Linked DNA regions of Homo sapiens: region 2 is linked to region 1. Evidence: fine-mapped expression QTL. A gene starts in region 1. The other region holds a variant in brackets. All regions are shown on one strand. Distances are between the middles of the regions. Region 1 holds the start of CEACAM1 (CEA cell adhesion molecule 1). Region 2 overlaps PSG3 (pregnancy specific beta-1-glycoprotein 3).

The links.
Region 2: its variant is fine-mapped to the expression of CEACAM1 in whole blood (TOPMed, PIP 0.93).

What each region holds. Positions count from the first base shown.
Region 1 is chr19:42,526,412-42,531,789 of GRCh38, reverse strand. It overlaps CEACAM1 (CEA cell adhesion molecule 1), which reads left to right and starts at 3,309. Exons shown (of 9, transcript NM_001712.5): 1 at 3,309-3,479; 2 at 4,390-4,749. The coding sequence starts at 3,416. All of the region lies in intron 2 of LIPE-AS1 (LIPE antisense RNA 1), which reads right to left. RefSeq lists enhancers at 2,147-3,009, 3,232-3,301.
Region 2 is chr19:42,722,311-42,727,688 of GRCh38, reverse strand. It overlaps PSG3 (pregnancy specific beta-1-glycoprotein 3), which reads left to right. Exons shown (of 7, transcript NM_021016.4): 6 at 3,664-3,747. The coding sequence ends at 3,707. Among named protein-coding and RNA genes, the nearest start is that of PSG3, 15 kb to the left of the region's middle. The variant A/G (reference allele first, on the strand shown) is at 3,134.

The DNA of each region.
Region 1 (5,378 bases):
GCCACCGCGCCCAGTCAATATCCTCATTTTATTTGCTGAGTTGCTATGTTAAAGTGTGAGTTGCCTGCCATGAATGAATGAAGAGACACTTAAAGCACTTGCCTGCATGACGATGTGCACCACCTTCTCTCTCCCCCTGTCCTGTGCCCTCAGGCCCTCTTCACCCAGGCCCAGGTGGCCCCATCCAGTGGCCTCTACAAATGGATTCCTCCTCAAGCTGGCCCACAGACCTTCCTTCCAGCAAGTGACTCACCTGCAACCTCCTCCACACACCTGAGCCAGCGGTTCTCAGTTCTTCTCTGAGGTCCCCCAGGAAGGGTGATGATCTCATGTAGGTTCACTCGCATTAGGTGACACATTCTCACAAACAAACTGGTCTGTGCAGTAAAGCACACAGCCACAACTCCTGAGGATGTTTTGCCATTGCCAAGTGTTGTCATGAGATGAGAGGTAAGAAAACAACATTTCACATCATGATTTAGCTCTAAATGACTTTTTTAATTGTATTTTTTAATTGACACCTAATAATTGTACATATTTATGGGTCCATAGCGATGTGATACATATAAGGTACAGTGATAAGGTCAGGGTGATTAGCATATCCATCATCTCAAACATTTAGCATTTCTTTGTGTTAGGAACATTCAATATCCCCTTTCTAGCTACTTGGAACTATATATTATTGTTAACTATAGTCAGGCCGGTTGCAGTGGGTCACACCTATAATCTTAGCACTTTGGAAGGCCGAGACGGGAGGATTGCTTGAGCCCAGGAGCTCGAGACCAGCCTGACCAACATAATAAGATCAGTCTCTACAAAAAAATCAAAACACTTGGCTGGGCATGGTGGCTGTAATCCTAGAACTTTGGGAGGCCTAGGCGGAGGATCACTTGAGCTTAGGAGTTCAAGGCCAGCCTGGGCAACATAGTGATACCCTGTCTCTTTATTTAAAAAAAAATTGAAAAATAAAACAAAAAATTAGCCAGGCGTGGTGGCGTGCACCTATAGTTCCAGCTACATGGGAGACTGAGGCAGGAAGATCACCTGATCGCAGGAGGTTGAGGCTGCAGTGTACTCCAGACCCTGTCTCAAAAAAAAAAAAAAATCTGTAGTCATCCTACAGTGGTATAGAACATTAGAACTTATTCCTCCTCCTATCTAGCTGTATTTTTTTTTTTTTTTTTTTTTGAGACGGAGTCTCGCTCTGTCGCCCAGGCCGGACTGCGGACTGCAGTGGCGCAATCTCGGCTCACTGCAAGCTCCGCTTCCCAGGTTCACGCCATTCTCCTGCCTCAGCCTCCCGAGTAGCTGGGACTACAGGCGCCCGCCACCGCGCCCGGCTAATTTTTTGTATTTTTAGTAGAGACGGGGTTTCACCTTGTTAGCCAGGATGGTCTCGATCTCCTGACCTCATGATCCACCCGCCTCGGCCTCCCAAAGTGCTGGGATTACAGGCGTGAGCCACCGCGCCTGGCCTTATTTTTTTTTAAGATGGAGTCTCACTCTGTCGCCACACTGAAGTGCAATGGTGCAATCTTGGCTCATTGCAACCTCTGCCTCCCGGGTTCCAGTGATTCTCCTGCCTCAGCCTCCAAGTAGCTGGGACTACAGGTGCCCACGACCACACCTGGCTAATTTTTTGTATTTTTAGTAGAGACGGGGTTTCACCATGTTGGCCAGGATGGTCTCAATCTCTTGACCTCATGATCCACCCGCCTCGGCCTCCCAAAGTGCTGGGATTACAGGCATGAGCCACTGTGCCCGGCCTATCTAGCTGTAATTTTATATCCTTTAACACATCTTTCCCTGTCCCTCCCTTCCTCTACCCTTCCCAGCCTCTGGTATGCTCTGTTCTACTTTTTCCTTCCATGAGATCAACTGTTTTTAGGTTCCACATATTAGTAAGAACATGTGATGTTTAACTTTCTGTTCCTAGCCCACTTCCATTCATGTTGCCACATGTGACAGGATTTCATTCTCAAGCCCCCAAAGGCACCTCACTGGGCCTTTGTTTTTTTGTTTTGTTTTGTTTTTGCTTTTGTTTTTCAAACCTCTGGGACAGATGGCTCCTTCTAAGGCAGCCCATCCCCCTGGTGGACAGTTCTCTCCAATCTTGACAGAAGTCCTCTGGACAACTCACGTCCTCTCCCTGGGCTCATCCTGCACCGCATGGAGCTGGGCAGCCTGGGGACCCGCAGTGAACAGGACCTGGGGTGACTTGACCTTGAAGCCTGGAGGTCAGAGCCCACATCTGCCCAGGGGTCAGGGCCAGCTCACATCATGTAGACCCTGGTCAGCATCCCTGGGGCAGCCCTTGACAAGGCTGCAGGCCTTGTCTTGCCCTCCAGGGGGAGACATTGCACACAGACAACACTCAGGAAACATTCCCCTGGTCATGAACCTGGCTTTGCTAAGGAGGTGAAGGTAGAGCCCACTTTCCATCCCTTGCTCCAAAACACCCTTCCAGGCCCTCCCATGTACCTGCTCTGTCCCTTCCTGGGTCCTCTGAGGACCCTGTTCTGTGAGGGGTCCCTGTGCAGCTCCCCATTCCCTCCTGGCACCACCTGTGGGGAAGGTGCGGTGACCACAGGACAATCAGCCTCGCAGAGGACAGAGACCACCCAGGATGGTCAGGGAGAACATGGACAGGCCTTGAGCCTCAGCTCAAGGGAGGGAGGGTCCCCCTGAAGTCTTCCCCAAGGACAGTAGAGCCCAGAGCCACCCACCTCCCTCTATCACAGTCCTCTCTTCCCAGGACACACAGGACACCTCCCCCTCCATATCCGGGAGCTGCAGCTCCACCTGAGACCCCTGGACTTGGGTCTCTGTCCCTGGGTTAGAGGCCAGGCTGGTGACACTAGAGACAGAGGGCTGGTCCCTCCCCAGTCATCCCCCAGTGAGCCCCTTTCCATCCCCCAGAGCCACCTCTGTCACCTTCCTGCTGGGTGTCTTCCTACCTTCCCAGCACACTGAAGAGCATGGGGAGACCTGGCAGCTCACTGTGTTGCAAAGAAAATAATTACCACATTTGGATATGCCAGGGTTCTCTGTGTGCTGCTGACAGACCCATAGCCAGGACACAATAGAGGTCAGTGCTGGAGAGGGGGGATCCTCCTCCCCTGATGGGGACAGAGGTCTCATCAGCCTTGATTCTCAAAGTGTGGTCTGGGAAACCAAAATGTAGACAGAAAGGAAAGAGAAAGTAAGGACAAAGGTAGGAATGAGAGGAGAGGAAACAGAGCTTCCTGGACAAACCCCGCCCCAGCACACATGATCAGACAAAGCTCTGGGCCCCAGGGAGGAGGCTCAGCACAGAGAGTGGAAAACAGCAGAGGTGACAGAGCAGCCGTGCTCGAAGCGTTCCTGGAGCCCAAGCTCTCCTCCACAGGTGAAGACAGGGCCAGCAGGAGACACCATGGGGCACCTCTCAGCCCCACTTCACAGAGTGCGTGTACCCTGGCAGGGGCTTCTGCTCACAGGTGAGGGGAGGACACCCTGGGAAGGGGCGGAAAGAGGGCGCACAGAGAATGGCTAGGGTCCTCTGGGGAGGATGGAGCTCTAAGAGGGGACAGAGGGCTTCTCTTGGAGCCAAATAGGAGAGAGGACATGAAAGGGATAGAGATCATAAAAGGAAAGTCTCAGTGATCTGAAACTGTTAGTGAATAAACAATCTCCCATTTTTTACCTTTTCCAACTGAATCATCAATGAGCAATAAATTTCAAAAACTGCTGACAATAATCACAATTTAAGTCAGCGTGACAATTAAGGAAAACATTTTAAAAGGGGCATTAAACAGAGCCCTGAGCCACCAACCTCAGATATTGGCAAATAAACCCCAGGACATGAAGAGCCCTGGGAATGCTCACTAACTCATCCACAGGAGTCTGCAGCCTATCCCAGGCACTGGGGTGCAACCAACATCACACAAATCCCTGCCCTCACGGAGCTCACGCTCTCATGGGTGGGGAAGACAGACAAGCAAAGAGATCTAGAATGTGAGGTCAGGTGTTGACAAGAGCCCTGGAGGGAACAGAGCAGAAAAAGGTCAGAAAGGGAATACCCAGGGTCTCTAGGGGAGGTGTCAGGGAAAGGATCTCCCAAGAGCACCCTGATGTGATCAAGATCTGAGGGCAGTGGGGAGGGAGCCATGCGGATCCCTGGGGAAGGGCATTCCAGAGAAATGACAAGGTCAGAGGCACTAAGGGAATGGGAGTCACACTGCTGACCTTGACCCAGTAGGACACACACACACACACACACACACACACACACACACACACACACTCCAAGGTGGAGGGGTGAAGACACCTGCTCAGGACCCAAGGCCCCATTTTTCTACCCTAATGCATAGGTCCCAATATTGACTGATGCTCTCTCCTCTCTCCTAGCCTCACTTCTAACCTTCTGGAACCCGCCCACCACTGCCCAGCTCACTACTGAATCCATGCCATTCAATGTTGCAGAGGGGAAGGAGGTTCTTCTCCTTGTCCACAATCTGCCCCAGCAACTTTTTGGCTACAGCTGGTACAAAGGGGAAAGAGTGGATGGCAACCGTCAAATTGTAGGATATGCAATAGGAACTCAACAAGCTACCCCAGGGCCCGCAAACAGCGGTCGAGAGACAATATACCCCAATGCATCCCTGCTGATCCAGAACGTCACCCAGAATGACACAGGATTCTACACCCTACAAGTCATAAAGTCAGATCTTGTGAATGAAGAAGCAACTGGACAGTTCCATGTATACCGTGAGTATTTCCCCATGACCTCTGGGTGTTGGGGGGTTAGTTCTACTTCCCACACATGGGATTGTCAGGCCTGGGCTGTGCCTGTGTCCTCCTCTGCATTATACCCCATGTTAAGGTTTGAGCATCTAGTGCAGGACACACTATGGGACAGACATCAAAATACCGAATGTCTTACTCTGGAGTCCTGATCCTGCAGACATTTGCTTCAGAGGAAGGACAATCTGATGTGGGTAACTTATCGAGGGGAGACCAGTCTCAATCTAGCCCCCCGGGACCCTCCTGGTGAACATGTCCCTAAGAAAGACCCAGTAGGACTCAGTCAGGGTCTGGCCTGAAGGGCCTTCTGGGATCCTCACAGACAAGCTCAGCCCTGGGAATCCCCTGCTCCAAAACACTATCCCAAGGTTCTCAACTCCTGGTGACCCTGAGGAGCCTGGGCCAGGGCTAGATTGTGGCCTCCTGGGCAGGGCTGACTAGGAACAAGAATTTGAGCTATCCGAGGGCTGTGGCTCCTGGAGCTGGTAACCAGCCAGGGTTCAGGCACTAGAGCCTCATTTGGGCAAGGATGGAGCCTCATCCTTCACCTTAGTCTCAGCCTGGAGAGGACAGATGGACAAGCTCCCCAGGCC
Region 2 (5,378 bases), 200 kb before region 1:
AACATTTCCCATTCCCATCAGCAATGCACTAGAGCTCCAATTTTTCCATCTACTTGAAAACACCTGTTGTTTTGTGTTGCTGTCATTGTTGTTGTTTATCAAAACCATCCTAAAGTGTGTGAGGTGGTGTAACAATGTGGTTTTGATTTGCATATCTCCAAGTATTCCTGATGCTGAGGAACTTTGCATGGGCTTATTTGATATTTGTATATCTTCCTTGGAGAAAACTCCATTTTAATCCTTTGTTCATTTTTTAATTGGGTTTTTGGATGTTTGCTGTTGTTGACTTGTAGCTTTTCATGTATTCTGGAAATTAATTTCTTATCACACATATAATTTGCAAATATTTTTATCATTTCGTGGGTTGCTTTTTACTTTCTTGATAGTGTTCTTTGATATATAAAAGGTTTTGATTTTTATGAAGTCCGATTTATCCATTTTATTTGTTGCCTATGCTTTTGTTGTTACAACCAGGAAATCATTGTGAAATCCAGTATCATGAAGCTTTTCTTCTAAGAGTTGAATAGTTTTTGCCCTTACATTTAGATCTTTGATCTATTGTGGGTTACTTTTTGTACATGGTGTTAGGTAAAGGTTCCACTGTTCTTGCCCTTGGATATCCACCTTTCCCAATATCATTTGGTGAGAAAACGGTCCCTTCCCCATTGAACGATCTTGGCACACTCGATGAAAATCATTTGGCCATATATGCAAGCATTTCTTTCTGGGTTATTATATTTCATTAATTTCTATGTCCTCCTTTATGCCAGTACCACAGTGTATTGATTACTGGGGCTTTGTAGTAAATGCTGAAATCAGGAAGTGTGAGTCCTCCAGCTTCATTCTTCCTCTTCAAAGCTGTGTGTCTATTTAGAGTCATGAGATGCAATATAAATTTTAGGACAGATTTTTTTTTACTGCAAAAATGTCACTGAGATTCTGATAGGAATTTTATTGAATCTGCAGCTCACGTCAGGTAGCACTGTCCTCCTAACAATATTGAGTCTTCCAATTCATGAAAACAAAATGTCTTTCAATTTATTGATGTCATCTTTCATTTCTTTCAGCCATATTTTGTAGATTTCAGGTATAATCATTTTACCTCTTTGGTTAAACTCATTCCTAAATATTTTATTCTTTTTGATGTTAATATAAATTGAAATTTTTTTTCTTAATTTCCCTTCAGATTGTTCATGGTTAGTGTATTGAAATACAACTGATGTTTGAATGTTGATTTTGTATTGTGCAACATTACTGAATTTATTTATTAATTCTAATAGGTTTGTTCCATCTTTAGGATTTTCTACATATAAGTTCAAGTTATCTGTAAACAGAAATAATTTTACTCCTTCCTTCCAATTTTAACGTCTTTTTTTAAATTCTTGCCTAATTTTTCTGACTAGACCTTTCAATACTATGTTGAATAAAAGTGTCAAAAGCAGGCACCCTTGTCTTGTTCCTGCTCATACAGGGAAAGCTTTCAGTCTTTCTCCGTTGAGTATGATGTTAGCATTGGGTTTTTCACATATTGCCTTTACGTTGAGGTGGTTTCCTTCCCTTCTTAGAAAGTTTTTATTATGAAAAAATATTGAATTTCATCAAATGTTTTATTGATTCAATCTTATTACTGATTATAGTTCCATTCATATTTTTGTGTGTTTCTAGGGGTTTGTCTACTTCATCTAGGTTATCCAATTTATTGGCATACAATTATTTATAGTACTTTCATAATCATTAGTTTATTAGAATTGGTAGTAATCGCTTCATTTTTCTTTTTTCTTTTTTTTTTTTTTTTTTTGGTTGTTGTTGTTGAAGAGAGAGAGACAGGCTCTCACTCTGTAGGCCAGCCCAGGATGGAATACAGTGGTGTGATTATGGCTCACTGCAGCCTCAACCTCCTGGGCTCAAGTAATTCTCCTTCTTCAGCCTCCCAAGATGCTAGGACTACAGGTGCATGTCACCATGCGCAGCTAATTGGCTTTTTTATTTTTTTGTAGAGACAGGGTCTCCCCAGGTTACCTATGCTGGTCCAAACACCTGGTCTCAAGAAATCCTTCTGCTGTGACTTCCCAAAGTGCTAGGATTAAAACATGACCCACCATGCTCAGAGTCCATTTTCATTTCTGATTTTAGGAATTTTAAACTTTTCTCTTTTTTTCTTAGTCAATCTAGTTAATGGTTGTCAATTTTGTTGATTTTATTTTGAAGAATCAACTTTTGGTTTCATTAATTTCCTCTATTCTTTTTCCATTCTCCATTTTATTTATATCCACTCTAATCCTTATTTTTCCCTCATTCACTGTGCTTGGGTTTAGTTTGTTCTTCTTTCATATCCTGAAGTATTAAAGTAGGTTGTTGACCTGAGATCTTTCTTCTTTTTTAATGTAAGAGTTTACAGTTATAAATTTCTTGCACAAGACTCAATTTCTCTGAACCTCTGATACCTCACCTGAAAACTGCAATAAGAGTGCTTTCTTCATACCTTTCTTTTAAAGGTTTAATGCAGTCAATAAAACGAGATGCCACACACAGTGGAACCAATGTCAGCTGCTATATGACTACCATCATCATTAGCCTAGAGGTCAAATAGTCCTAGAATCAAATCTCAGATCCACCTGTCACTAGCCATATGACACCAGGAAAGTTTTACACCACTCTAAGCTTCTGTCTTTTCATCGGCAAAATGGAAATAATGTCTACCTCACAGGGTTATTGTGTGGATTAAATGAGATACAGGGAAAGTATTTAGCACAGGGCCTGGCACATAGGAAGTGCCCCTCAACAGTACCTTCCTTTTTCCATATATATATATATGGAAAAAGAGGTAACACATAAAACACTAGGACATGGTTACTGACTACTTGTGGGAGAGAAAGAAAAAAAGCTAAGTGCAAAGAATCAAGCCTGGTATGTTAGTTTTTACTGACTGAGATGCATCCAAGATGGGATTAGACATACAAGATAACTTATCAGGGAAGACACCTGTGAGGGAATGTGGGGCAGGCATGAAGGTAGTACGGGAGAACCCACAGACCACTATGCAGAGCTGATTCCTGTGAAAAAGAAAGAGAAAGAAGTTTTAGGTACCAATTCAATTATAAGAGTTTTTGCAAGGCTGATGGGGAATCCTCCA[A/G]CCAGTCACCCATTAGAGTTAAAGAGAGCCTCAGAGAACTAGACTTGCTTTCACGCCCTTGCTGGGAGCCTGTAGGAAAGAAGCTTTCTGTGCAAAGGAGGTGGTGAATTTGAAATGCACTGACCTGGGCCTTCTGTCAATCAAGTCTCTGCCATGGAGACCTGGCAGGGTCTCATTCATGACTGCCACAACAGAGACACTGAGAAAAAGATGCAACCATGAAAAGGTGCAAAGGTGGCAAGTTCTAATGACATAGAAAATAGCAATCAGCCTTTCTCACATCTGAAAGCCTTCCAAATATCTGAGCACAGTAGAGAATTGACAGAGGACTGATCACCAACTGAGAAACAGGGTGAGAGGGAAAAAAAAACTGCAAGAATATAATCATCTCCTATCAATTTTCCAACAGAAATAACGTAGTCCTTGAAGAAACAATTATAGAGTACCTCATGTTACATGCTTGTTCCTGAGGCTCCCCCATGTAAAATAACATCATCTTCATTCCTTCTTTTCTTTTTTTTCCATGACAGCTCCTTCAGGAACAGGACATCTTCCTGGCCTTAATCCATTATAGCAGCCGTGATGTCATTTCTGTATTTCAGGAAGACTGGCAGGTATGATGACCTTTCCTCTTATCCTGGTTCCTGCAGGGCTAACTGCCATGCTTGGGAGAGGGAAAAGACTTATTTGCCTGTATCTGGGACTGGATCTCCTCCTTCCTCCACTAACTCCTGCTTCTCAGCACTAATTCCTGCAGTTCCCTTTCTCCCTGGCCTTTATGCTCCCTGTACCCCACTGTCTTTTAGACATAATTATCTCCAGCCTCTCTCTCTGCTCATTTGTTTCTCAGATTCAAATGAAAAACACAATTTCACATGGTGAAACCCTCTTCATTATTTTTAACATCTCTCAATAGTGTAATTCTCTCCATTCCCATAAAGCTCAACCACTTCTCAAAGTATTGCTTGACTTCTTGTCTCCAGACTTTGAAATCTTCCTTGCATATGACTGCCTCATTACCTTTCTAAAATCTAGTTAATTCACTTAATCAAGAATCTCCAGGGGTCTACTCTAGCCACTTTGATAAGTTCACATTTCTTCTATTTACTAAGCCTTCTCACTTCCTTTACCGCTACTTCCTAGTATAATTCCTCCATCCTAATTAGAACTGTCTTCCTACACACCCCTGTCCCTTCACCCATATAGATATAAAATTCTTAGTTCCAATGCTATGTCTGAAAACAGAGTGAAATCCCCTCTACCATCTGCACTGCAGACTTAACCACACCCTTCATCACAAGCAACATCTGACCTCGTGGAGAACTAAGACTTTAGGATTAACATGTGAACCTGAGACTCAGAACACAACCTATGTGTGGTTGAGATCTTTTCCTGATGACCAGTTCATGTGTTTAAAAAAGATACAGAAATGATGAAGGCAAGGTCCCTACGCCAGGAGACATAAAGCCTAAGACAGGAAATGAGACCTGAAAATAATCATGATACCAAAATAGAAAAAATTGAATGCCACAAGAAATCAGAGAAATCTGATGGGAAATAGAGCTACACATTGGAATCACTGGAAAACATTTTTAAAAGTGGATGCTCAAGCCCCACCCATTAGTTCCAGTTTAAAGGTCTGGAGAGGGACCCAGGCATTGGTAATTTTTAAGTCTTCCCTGACACTACTAACATGTAACAAGGATGGAGAACTCTTGTTGTAATAGGTAGAACTTAAAACTAAATCAATGATGTTCAGCTGGAAGTACTGGAATTACCTAAGGACCTTTTTCAACATACATAAGACTATACTTTTTTGGCCCTATTTATGAATGGGCTACACCAAGAACTCAGTAATCCAGTTAACAAACAGAAGCTGAATGGAAAAGCCACTTTATTTGATAAGTTAAATTATATAGAAAGCATTTTCAAATAAGTGATAAGTGATGCTAAACCTCCTCTAAATAATATTTATGGGAATGTTAATAATATGAGTATTCTAGGCTGGGTGCGATGGCTCACGCCTGTCATCCCAGCACTTTGGGAGGCCGAGGTGGGCGGATCACAAGGTCAGGAGATCGAGACCATCCTGGCTAACACGGTGAAACCCCATCTCTACTAAAAATGCAAAAACAAAATTAGCCGGGCTTGGTGGCAGGCACCTGTAGTCCCAGCTACTCAGGAGGCTGAGGCAGGAGAATGGCAGGAACCCGGGAGGCGGAGCTTGCAGTGAACTGGGATCGCA